Linked DNA regions of Homo sapiens. The protein of the gene in region 1 purifies or fractionates together with the protein of each later gene. This does not show direct contact. Each region holds a gene or a part of one and is shown on either strand. Other genes may lie near its edges.

Region 1 (5,044 bases):
GCTACCTGGGGATGCCCATCCCCTGGCCGTGGGTCTAGTCCACTGCAGTGGGAAGAAGGCTCGGCCCGGCCTGGTCTCTCTTGAGCCAGGTACTGGAGGGTGTCCCAAGACCCAGTTGGCAGCTAACTGTGGCTCAAGGAGGTGGGCATTGGCAGAACAGACCCGCCCTGGGCTGCAGGTGGAGGGGTGGGCCTGCTGGAGACTGAGGTACTTGTAGGATGGTGGGGAAGAGCAAGACAGGGGCAGAGGAGGCTCAGGATGGGAGCAAATGCCCCTTCGGACCCCAAAAGCAGAAGGCTGGTCTGGAGAGAGGGAGCATGCAGCTGCCCTTGCTCCATCATCTGGTGCCTGGTCAGGCCCTCTCTCCTACCTCCAGGAGGAAAAAAACAGAGAGAGGAAACTGCGAGCAAATGGGCTTCTGGGTCCCGTCAGGGCTGCACAAGCCCTCTGTCATGCTGCCAGCTTGCACCAGTGCCCCCGCGTGGCCCCCAGACATCCCCGCCCGGCCCGGGCTAGGAGCTGGTGATAAACCCAGGGAGGGGCCCTCCCCAACGAAAGTGGATGAGCTTGGGGTATCCCAGCTCAGCCTCTGCCTCAAGTCACAGAATGCGAACAGTGTATGTGAACTAAACCTGCCTGTTACGGCGGGAGTGGGGTAGGGGCCACGGGGCCTCTGTGAGGGAGGGGGAACAGCGTTGTCCTGAGTACAGCCAGCAGCAGCTGCTGCGCGGAGCGGGCTGGGCCAAAGCCCTGCTTCTGGACTGGAGTAGCCATTGAATTTATGAGTGTGCAGATATGTCTCTCCCACCGTTTCCTGCTAGCTGATGCCCCCTGCCCTGGCCAGAAAGCCTGTGGATGGTGGGCAGCGCTGCCTGGCGATGCTCATGCTGCCCACATCCTCTCCTCCTGACAGTGGTTGAGCAAGTGAGGGAGGCCAGGACGGCTGCACTTCAGGGGCTTGGCCTCTAGGGGCAGCAGAAGCATCTAACAGGGCAGGGGCGGTATCTTTCCTGGACCAGCTCTTGATCCAGTTTGGACCTTTCCTATTGCCACTGACGCTGCTCAGTCCTGGTGCGGGAGGGTTTTGAAGGAGTTTGTGCAGTGGTCCCTCCACCAGGAGTCAGAGACCACGTCCTACTGCCAAGCAGCAGTGACCGCCTAAGCGTGGGCTGTGGGGGTGGGGAGAGGTAGGGGGCACCTCAGCTGGAGCTCAGGGGGTATCTCCTTCCAACCTCAGACCAAGCCTGTGGAAAAGGAGAGAAAGTGCATGGAGCGAGCCGGGACCCAGCCACTCTCCTCTCCAACACTCCGGGTAGGAGGCCCCCTTGCCAGCCAACCCTGCCTGCTGGCCTTCCCCGGCTCCCTCTCCGAAGGCCGTGCTCCCTTCCCCTTTGCACAGCACAGCGCCAGGCTTCCCACTGCTCTCCCAGCTCTATAGACTCTATTTTTATATCTATTTAAAACATAGAAATGTATAAATATATAGGATATTATTTATAGATATATAGACGTGATTTACTCTCTTACTCTGTGTGTATACGTACTGTATATGTCCATATATACAACATATATGCTGTAGCATCTGTATTCTACACTGCACATACCCCTGCTTCCATGCACTCTCTCCTAGGGAGACTGGATTGCATAGGTATTTCCAGGGTGATACCACTTGAGGGGGTGGGGGGGAAGGGAGTGCCAGATGGAAGTGGAGGGGCGTACCATTTTCCTCCCAAAAGGGCACTTTTTCTCCCTCTGGCTAACATGCAAACATTGCCTGAAAGGCTCCTTAAAAATATCACAGCACCATCCACTCAGCTCAAGCACCCTAACCAACAGATGGCAAGAGAAGGGCCCCCACCAAGTGGGAGATGGGTTTCCCTCCAAGCAGGAGAAGGGCCGTGCCAGTCTCTTGGGTCCTCCTGAGGACTGAGGAAGAGGCCAGACTAGAACCCATGACACGGCACCACCTCCCCAGAAGACTGGTGTCTGGAATGGGCACACCACTGCCCTCTGAAAACCCCTTTCTTGTCTGAGGAGGACTGGCCTGCCTGTTTCAGCTGTTTCAGCCTGGCCTGGCTAGATCTGCCTCTTGAAGCAGGGAGGGGGCACAAGTCCAATGCCTTCTGCCAAAATTGGACCTATGGGCCAAGAAAAAGCATGAATTCGACTTGGAAATCAACCCAGACTGAAAGCCAAAAGCAGACCTAGGTCTAGAACTCCCATTCCTAGAGGGGGTAGAAGGAAAATGAAAGGGGGGATCCAGAAGAGGGAAGTTATACTTCAACCCCTCAGGCCACCTCCTGGGTCCCATCAGGCTCCAGGTGATCAAGTAACATGGCACCAGCCCCTCAGTGCCGGCTGGGCCAGGGCTGTGGGCCCACAGTAGGGTCTCAGCTATTGTTTCCAGCCTTCTGCATGCTTTCCCCCCTGTTGGCACCACCTCCAAATGAATGGAAAACATTTAAACATTACCTTAAGTAATTACAAGGTACTTTTCCTAAATTAAAGGGTTGGCATAAGCAACTCAAGGGGAGGACCACCTCAGCAAAACAACTCAACTTGGAAACATGTGGCAGAGGCTGAGGTCAGAGACCCCCAAGTGCCATAGATTCCAGGGCCCAGCACTGAACCTTGCCATCCAGGGACCCTGGAACTTGAGCCTGCTCTCAGTCCCAAGTGAGGATGGGGAAATGAGGATGTGCCTAGCATCACAAGGTGTCATAGGCCAGTCATTAGAAAAATTAAATTAAATAAGGCTGCTGTTTCTGATGCCTGGACTCTCATATTCAACCAGGCAGGCAAAACTTGGGGATTCTGACATGGCAAGAGTTACAGACTTGACTGCGCTGTCCTCATGTTTCACAGATACTAGATGGCAGTGGATTTTTTCTTTGTCCTCCATGAAGGAAAAGCAGATCATATTAATCATAAGGGCTCTGGCTCCCAGGCTCTGCCAGGTATCACCTTGGCACAGTTGGCCACAAACCTGGGCCTCAAGGTTGATCTCACTTCCCACCAACCCTACGAGCCAAAGAAAGTCACTAATCAGCCAGCCCAGTTATGCCAAGTCTCAGCCCCAGAGACACACTTCATTCTAAGCCTGTAGTCATCACTCCTAAGCCAGAGGCTGAGTTAAAGGGCTCTGTCTTGTCTGAAGTAACAACATTTGGGATCCACCAACTGCTTTTCCACAGTTCTGTATACACATCAAGGGGAGATTAGGTTAGCCAAGCATATGCTCCCTGGGCTAGACCCTGAGTGTCCCATCAGTCCAAGTCCTTCTCAAGCAAGCAGAAGAGTGGGAAATGCCTATGACAGAAATCATGGGTAATCACATGCAGAATTCACAGGACAGAAGCACTGGGCCTCCCAGGGAGCATCCAAGCTGAGAAGAGACCCCGTGTAAATTGCAGTGGTGTATCACCCAAATTATTCCCTGTCCCATGGCAGTGTGGCCTACAGAGTGTCTGCCACAGCCCTGGCATGGCTAAATTCAGCAGAAGCCACAAGCACCCAGAGTTTTAGGGATGCCCTAACCTAACTTCAAGACCACCTGAGAGGTTAGCTTTTCCGAGGTCTGGTGGCCAGCTCAGGAAGTGACCCCTGCAGCTGCATGCTGTGCATAGCAGCTCATTCTGCTAGGCCAGAAGTGGGTCACCTGCTCTCAGCTTTCTCAGGAACTACAGGGTAGGCACTGGCACTGGCCCATAAGCTTTTCCCCTTCTAGCTGAAGATTTTAGCTCATTTTGGCCATGATCTCTTGAGAGGAAAAAGAGTAGCTCCAACTGACCAGGTGCTCAGGAAGACACTGGTTCTCTCTTCCTGGTTTTCAAATGAGCGGGAGCCTTAGCCTGCTCCTCCCTACCCATTACCCAATGTAAGGTGTAAGGCAACTGTTGGCTAGAAGAAAGGATCTCAACCTACTGTTTCTGCCCTCACCAAGCCCTGTCTTGCTAGCCATCTCTGCCCTCAACCCTTCTTAGTCTCTGCAATGTTCAGTGAAAACTCCCCAGACACAGCAGTTTGCGTGTGTGAGGGGAGAGGAAGTCCCAAGGCTGGGGCTGGGCCAGGTGGGACCTGGTGCTTTGCAACAGCATCCCATTTGACCACAGTTAGGTTTTGACCCTGATGGGAGGAGCAGATGGAGGGAGACATCAGTTTAAAGTGGGGAAGTGGAATGGGGCTGGGAATCTCAAAGCCTCAGAAGGAGGCTTTCAGCCTTTCCTTGCTAGTTCCTGCTAACTGTCTTCTTGCTCAGAGGAGGGTAGGGAAGCATGTGTGCAACTGGGGTGGGAGGTGGGGTGGATGTCACCAGGCAGGGGTGCATTGATTTGTTGAAGAAGGCAGCATATGAGGCCTGGCAGTGGGACAGTTGGAGGAACCCATTTTTTTTTGTTTTTTGTTTTTTAACATGCTACATCACTGTTGAAAACAAACAAAAATATTTCAAAAATAATATATAATATATATAATATATTTATATAATGAAAAGCTATTGACTAGCAGCAATGATTCTAAAGTTATCTTAGCACCAAGACCATGGAGGTGAAGGGGAAGGGATTGGTAGGGGATGAAGGGACTGGTGGAACCAAGAAAGGGCTATAACATGTTCAGTGTTGATGACATTTCCACTATGGTTCTCAACGGTGGCATGAGGCCTCAGAGACAACATAAACCAAGAAGGAAGGAAGCCACCACAGTTTTATAATGTCTGAACCAAGCAGGCTGAAGACATTGGGGCCTTGCCTGTGGCCAGATAACACCACCCTCTGCCAACCAAGAGATGAAGCTCTCAGCAGAACTGACCACATGTATATAATTCAGATCTTCCTCCCTCCCCCAAAATGACCTGCATCCACGTGATAGGATCTCTGCATATAAAATATGCATAAATCAGATGTAGGAACATGAACAGAAGTTTTTAACAGCTCACGCACATTTTTTAAAACTCCCTTGCGAGGTATACCGGTAGTTAAATGAATGAAAGAGCATTGATCAGACTCCTCTAGTTTAAACCACTACTTGCCCCAGGGAATAGGCAAGT
Region 2 (4,556 bases), on another chromosome or scaffold:
CAGTCTAAAATTGACTTTTCTCAGACATTTGTGAAGGCTTCAATTGTATTAGAGTATCAACTGTTAGTCAACTGGGAAAACAGCACGGATGAGTACAGGTACCTGTATCTATAATTCTTTTAGTTTATAGTTTATAATTCATTTAAGTATACTTTTTAGTTTAGAATTCTTTTAAGTATATAAAAGATCAAATTTCTATTCAATTACAGTAGGTCAGAAGTGACAGCTTAGATAAAAAGTTAGCATGGCAGTACCTGAGTCATATTCCTAGTTATTTATTATCTTCAAGGCTCAGTACAAACAAGGAAAAGCCATTATTTTTCTTGCAGGCAAAAGAGGCAGTTAAAAGTTTGTTTATTTAACTTAGGTTGGGAGTTGCTCTTGCCTTAAAAAAAAAAAAAAAAAAAGGGAAAACTCCATGAAAGTAAAGATTAACTGATAATGCTTCTTTATCTTTGATGCACCTATCCCTTTTGGTTTTACTGTTTTCCTCTCCTCCCCAAGATTTTCCTATTTGTGTAAAATTGTACTAAGAGCACCTGGGAAGGCTGGGCATGGTGGCTCACGCCTGTAATCCCAGCACTTCGGGAGGCCGAGGTGGGCGGACCACCTGAACCCAGCAGTTCGAGACCAGCGTGGCCAACATAGTGAAACCCTGTCTCTACTAAAAATACAAAAATTAGCTGGGTGTGGTGGCGCGCACCTGTAATCCCACCTACTCAGGAAGATGAGGCAGGAGAATCACTTGAACCCAGGAGGCAGAGGCTGCAGTGAGCCGAGATCCTGCCACTGCACTCCAGCCTGGGCAACAGAGTGAGACTCCATCTCAAAAACAAACAAACAAAAAAGAAAACCTGGAGGATAAAAATTGTACCCAATACCTAGGACACTTTCTGCACAGAATAATATATAACCACTTAAGTAATAGCCATATGATAATTATGTCATTAAAATTTAAATTCTTGCATAGCTCTACACAAAAAATTACCATTTATATCTTCCAATAGGATCCCAAAATCCAGGCCTTGAAAGTTTACAGGGTCCTTCAGTTGCCTGCTTATAGAAGCTATAAAATTTAAGCATCATTTCATTTGTTGGCTGGAATGAACCTGTTGGAAACACACATTAAATACAAATCACCTGGGGAATACAACTGATAATCAGGTTATAAATTAGCTTAGCTATACTAATAGTGATTTTATATTGCATTAATACTTTAGATAATGATTTATTTCTAGCTTATAGAAACAAAAGTTATGGTTCTGTTAGTTGCTTGCTTCTTTGATTTCAAAACACTCTGAGATTTTAAACTTTAATAGCAATGCCTAAGATGGTTCAATAAATAAAAGAATACATGAATAGACATGCTGTAGATATAACCAAAATAACCTGCAAATGTCTCTTTAAAAACATACTAAAATATAGAATAACTATTATTAAGCAATCGTAATAAGGTACTTTTATTCAAAGCTTATGACAAATCAAAACTGACTAGTGTAAGTGAAAAAGTTATATGTATACTCTGCCAAATTTCAAATTCTCAGTAGATAAGGAATTTGGGGCTAAAGCCAAAGAGTATACACTATGGTAGAAAAAGAATTAATCTAAGATAAAATAGATTTCTCACTTCCTACCTCTGTAATTTTGGAGACATCAATTTGAGGATAATTCTTCATATATGTTTCTAGCATATCTATAGTTTTTCTCATGTTTAAAATTTTTAAATTGGCCAGTTGTGGTGGCTCATGTCTGTAATCCCAGCACTTTGTGAGGCTGAGGTGGGTGGATCACCTGACCCCAGGAGTTCAAGGCCAGCCTGGGCAACATAGCAAAACCCTGTCTCTACAAATAAAAACAAAAATTAGCTGGGTGTGATGGCACACCCTGTAGTCCCAGCTACTCAGGAGCCTAAGCAGAGAGGATCTCCTGAGCCTGGGGAGGTCAAGGATGCAGTGAGCTGTGATCACACCACTGCACTACAGCCTCGGTGACAGAGAAAGACCCTGTCTCAAAAAAAAAAAAAAAAAAATCAAATTGTATAAGCAAGTGCTATAAGTTGCAGTATTCTCAATAACTGAAAAATTGGAATGTTAATGTTTTATAATAGCTGTTTAAATAATTATGATATATAAATATAACAGGACAATTTATAACTGTAGCCCTAAAAAGTTATATTGTAGAAAAATATAAATAATGGTATAAGTTCCATGATCTACTATAAATTTAGAAAAATAAGTTTAAAAACAACATATGTAATATGATACCTTTTGGCAAAATATTTATATACATAAAAAGTACAGTAGAAAGATAAACATAAAATGTTTAAAGACTATCTCTGAATAGTAAGTATACAAATTATTTTCCTTTTCACTTATGTGTTTTTAAAAAAGTTTTAAACATCAGTGTATATTACCTTTATAACAAAATTTTAAAAATAACAATTGTAACAAGATATTTTTTAAAATTTGTAAATTGCATAAGCTAGCAGTTTATAAGAGCTGTGGGCCGGGCACAGTGGCTCACACCTGTAATCCTAGCACTTTGGGAGGCCGAGGCAGGCGGATCACCGGAGGTCAGGAGTTTAAGACCAGCCTGGCCAACATGATGAAACCCCGTCTCTACTAAAATACAAAAATTAGCCGGGCATGACGGTGGGTGCATGTAATCCCAGCTACTCAGGAGGCTGAGACAGAATTGCTTGAACCTGGAAGACGGTGGTTGCAGTGAGCCAAGATCACACCACTGCACTACAGCCTGGGCAGCTGAGCAAGACTTGGTCTCAAAAAAAAAAAAAAAAAAAAAGCTGTGCTGTGGAAATTACCACAGAGATAAACTGAGAACTAGTGTTTCAGGTTTGGCCGAGAGTGCATAATTAATTCTCAAATCACTATAATAATTATCTGTATAATATATGCACATTTAGGAGTACCTAATAGATAGTGTTCTAATGATACAATCCTTTATAAAGCAGAGGGAAAAAAATGGAGAAACCACAGTTTAAAATGGTCACTTATTTAAATAACACAAATCTAAATTTAAAACATCAAAAGTCTAATCTCAAAATATCTTCAGTAAGTCAACCAAATATGTTTATTGGCTTAGGTGAATGATATTAAAAATACAAAAACCGAGAACATTTATTGAGTGTAGTCTGTGTGTAAGACACTCAAGTAAGATTTCTGTCCTCAAGGTGCTCACACATGATGTACTTCATATGTATTTGAAATATTAGCTAAGAATTTTAATTTTAAAAGGTTAAGGTCATACCAAACATAGATGTCATAGGATTCATTACTATTTCAGGCCTTAAATAAGGATTGAGAAACAAGGAACAAAAAACTCCAAGATCTTGCTCTTTGCATAATGATTCAGAGCAAATCAAATGGTTTAAAAGTAGTATTACAAAAATATTTATAATCCATTATAACAAACTTCTGCTTCAATTAATATCAACTTAGTTTCAGGGGATAACAGTATACTGGATGTTGTCCAACACAAGTACCATTTGATAGGATATCTTTTTTTTTTTTTTTTGAGTTGGAGTCTGGCTCTTGTCACCCAGGCTGGAGTACAATGGCGCAATCTCAGCTGACTGCAACCTCCGCCTCCCGAGTTCAAGCGATTTTCCTGCCTCAACCTCCCGAGTAGCTGGGATTACAGGAACTCGCCACTACACTCAGCTAATTTTTGTATTTTTAGTAGAAGTGGGGTTTCACCATGTTGGCCAGGCTGGTCTGGAATTCCTGATCTCAGGGCCTGCCTCGATCTCCCAAAGTGCTGGGATTACAGGTGTGAGCCACCACGCCTGGCCTGATAGGGTATCTTTTTTTTTAAATTTAATTTAATTTAATTTTATTTTATTTTTTCGGAGACGGAGTCTGGCTCTGTCACCCAGGCTGGGGTGTGATCTAGGCTCACTGCAAGCTCCGCCTCCCGGGTTCACGCCATTCTCCTGCCTCAGCCTCCCGAGTAGGTGGGACTACAGGCGCCCACGACCACGCCTGGCTAATTTTTTGTATTTTTAGTAGAGACGGGGTTTCACCGTATTAGCCAGGATGGTCTCAATCTCCTGACCTTGTGATCCGCCAGCCCCGTGATCAGCCCGCCTCAGCATCAGCCTGCCTCGGCCTCCCACAGTGCTGGGATTACAGGCGTGAGCCACCGCACCCGGCCGATAGGGTATGTTAACTTTGCAATACTTTCTTAAATGTTATGTACATACAAACTGTACTTTATACAGGTTTCCTAATAAGTGGTACATAATGTCAACAGGCATAGTGGCCTAGAGACATCAGTCTAGCTTTACCAATTTTCAAAAAACTATAAAAACGTGTGCTTTAGAAGAAAGTATAAACATACTACTTACATAAAACTCTTAGAATCATACCTTTCTATAAACACTAATAATTAGGGACTTAAAAAATCAATACCTAAATAAGTTCATGCTTTTTTTTATATTTTATTTGTTCTTTCTTATCTTTCAGTCCCCCATATGCCCTCCTCCAATAGAATGTTTGAAATTACAAAAGGTTCAGACAACACCATAGAAGGAAAGA

Evidence for each region.
Region 2: the proteins of PRDM11 (region 1) and ACBD5 purify together in Homo sapiens (affinity purification with mass spectrometry; one large-scale study listed by BioGRID and IntAct). This does not show direct contact.

What each region holds. Positions count from the first base shown.
Region 1 is NC_000011.10:45,229,555-45,234,598, reverse strand, and holds part of PRDM11 (PR domain-containing protein 11), read right to left. Parts: 3' UTR 1-5,044.
Region 2 is NC_000010.11:27,234,104-27,238,659, forward strand, and holds part of ACBD5 (acyl-CoA-binding domain-containing protein 5), read right to left. Parts: intron 1,110-4,556; coding exon 989-1,109; intron 1-988. UniProt on the Homo sapiens protein: Acyl-CoA binding protein which acts as the peroxisome receptor for pexophagy but is dispensable for aggrephagy and nonselective autophagy. Binds medium- and long-chain acyl-CoA esters.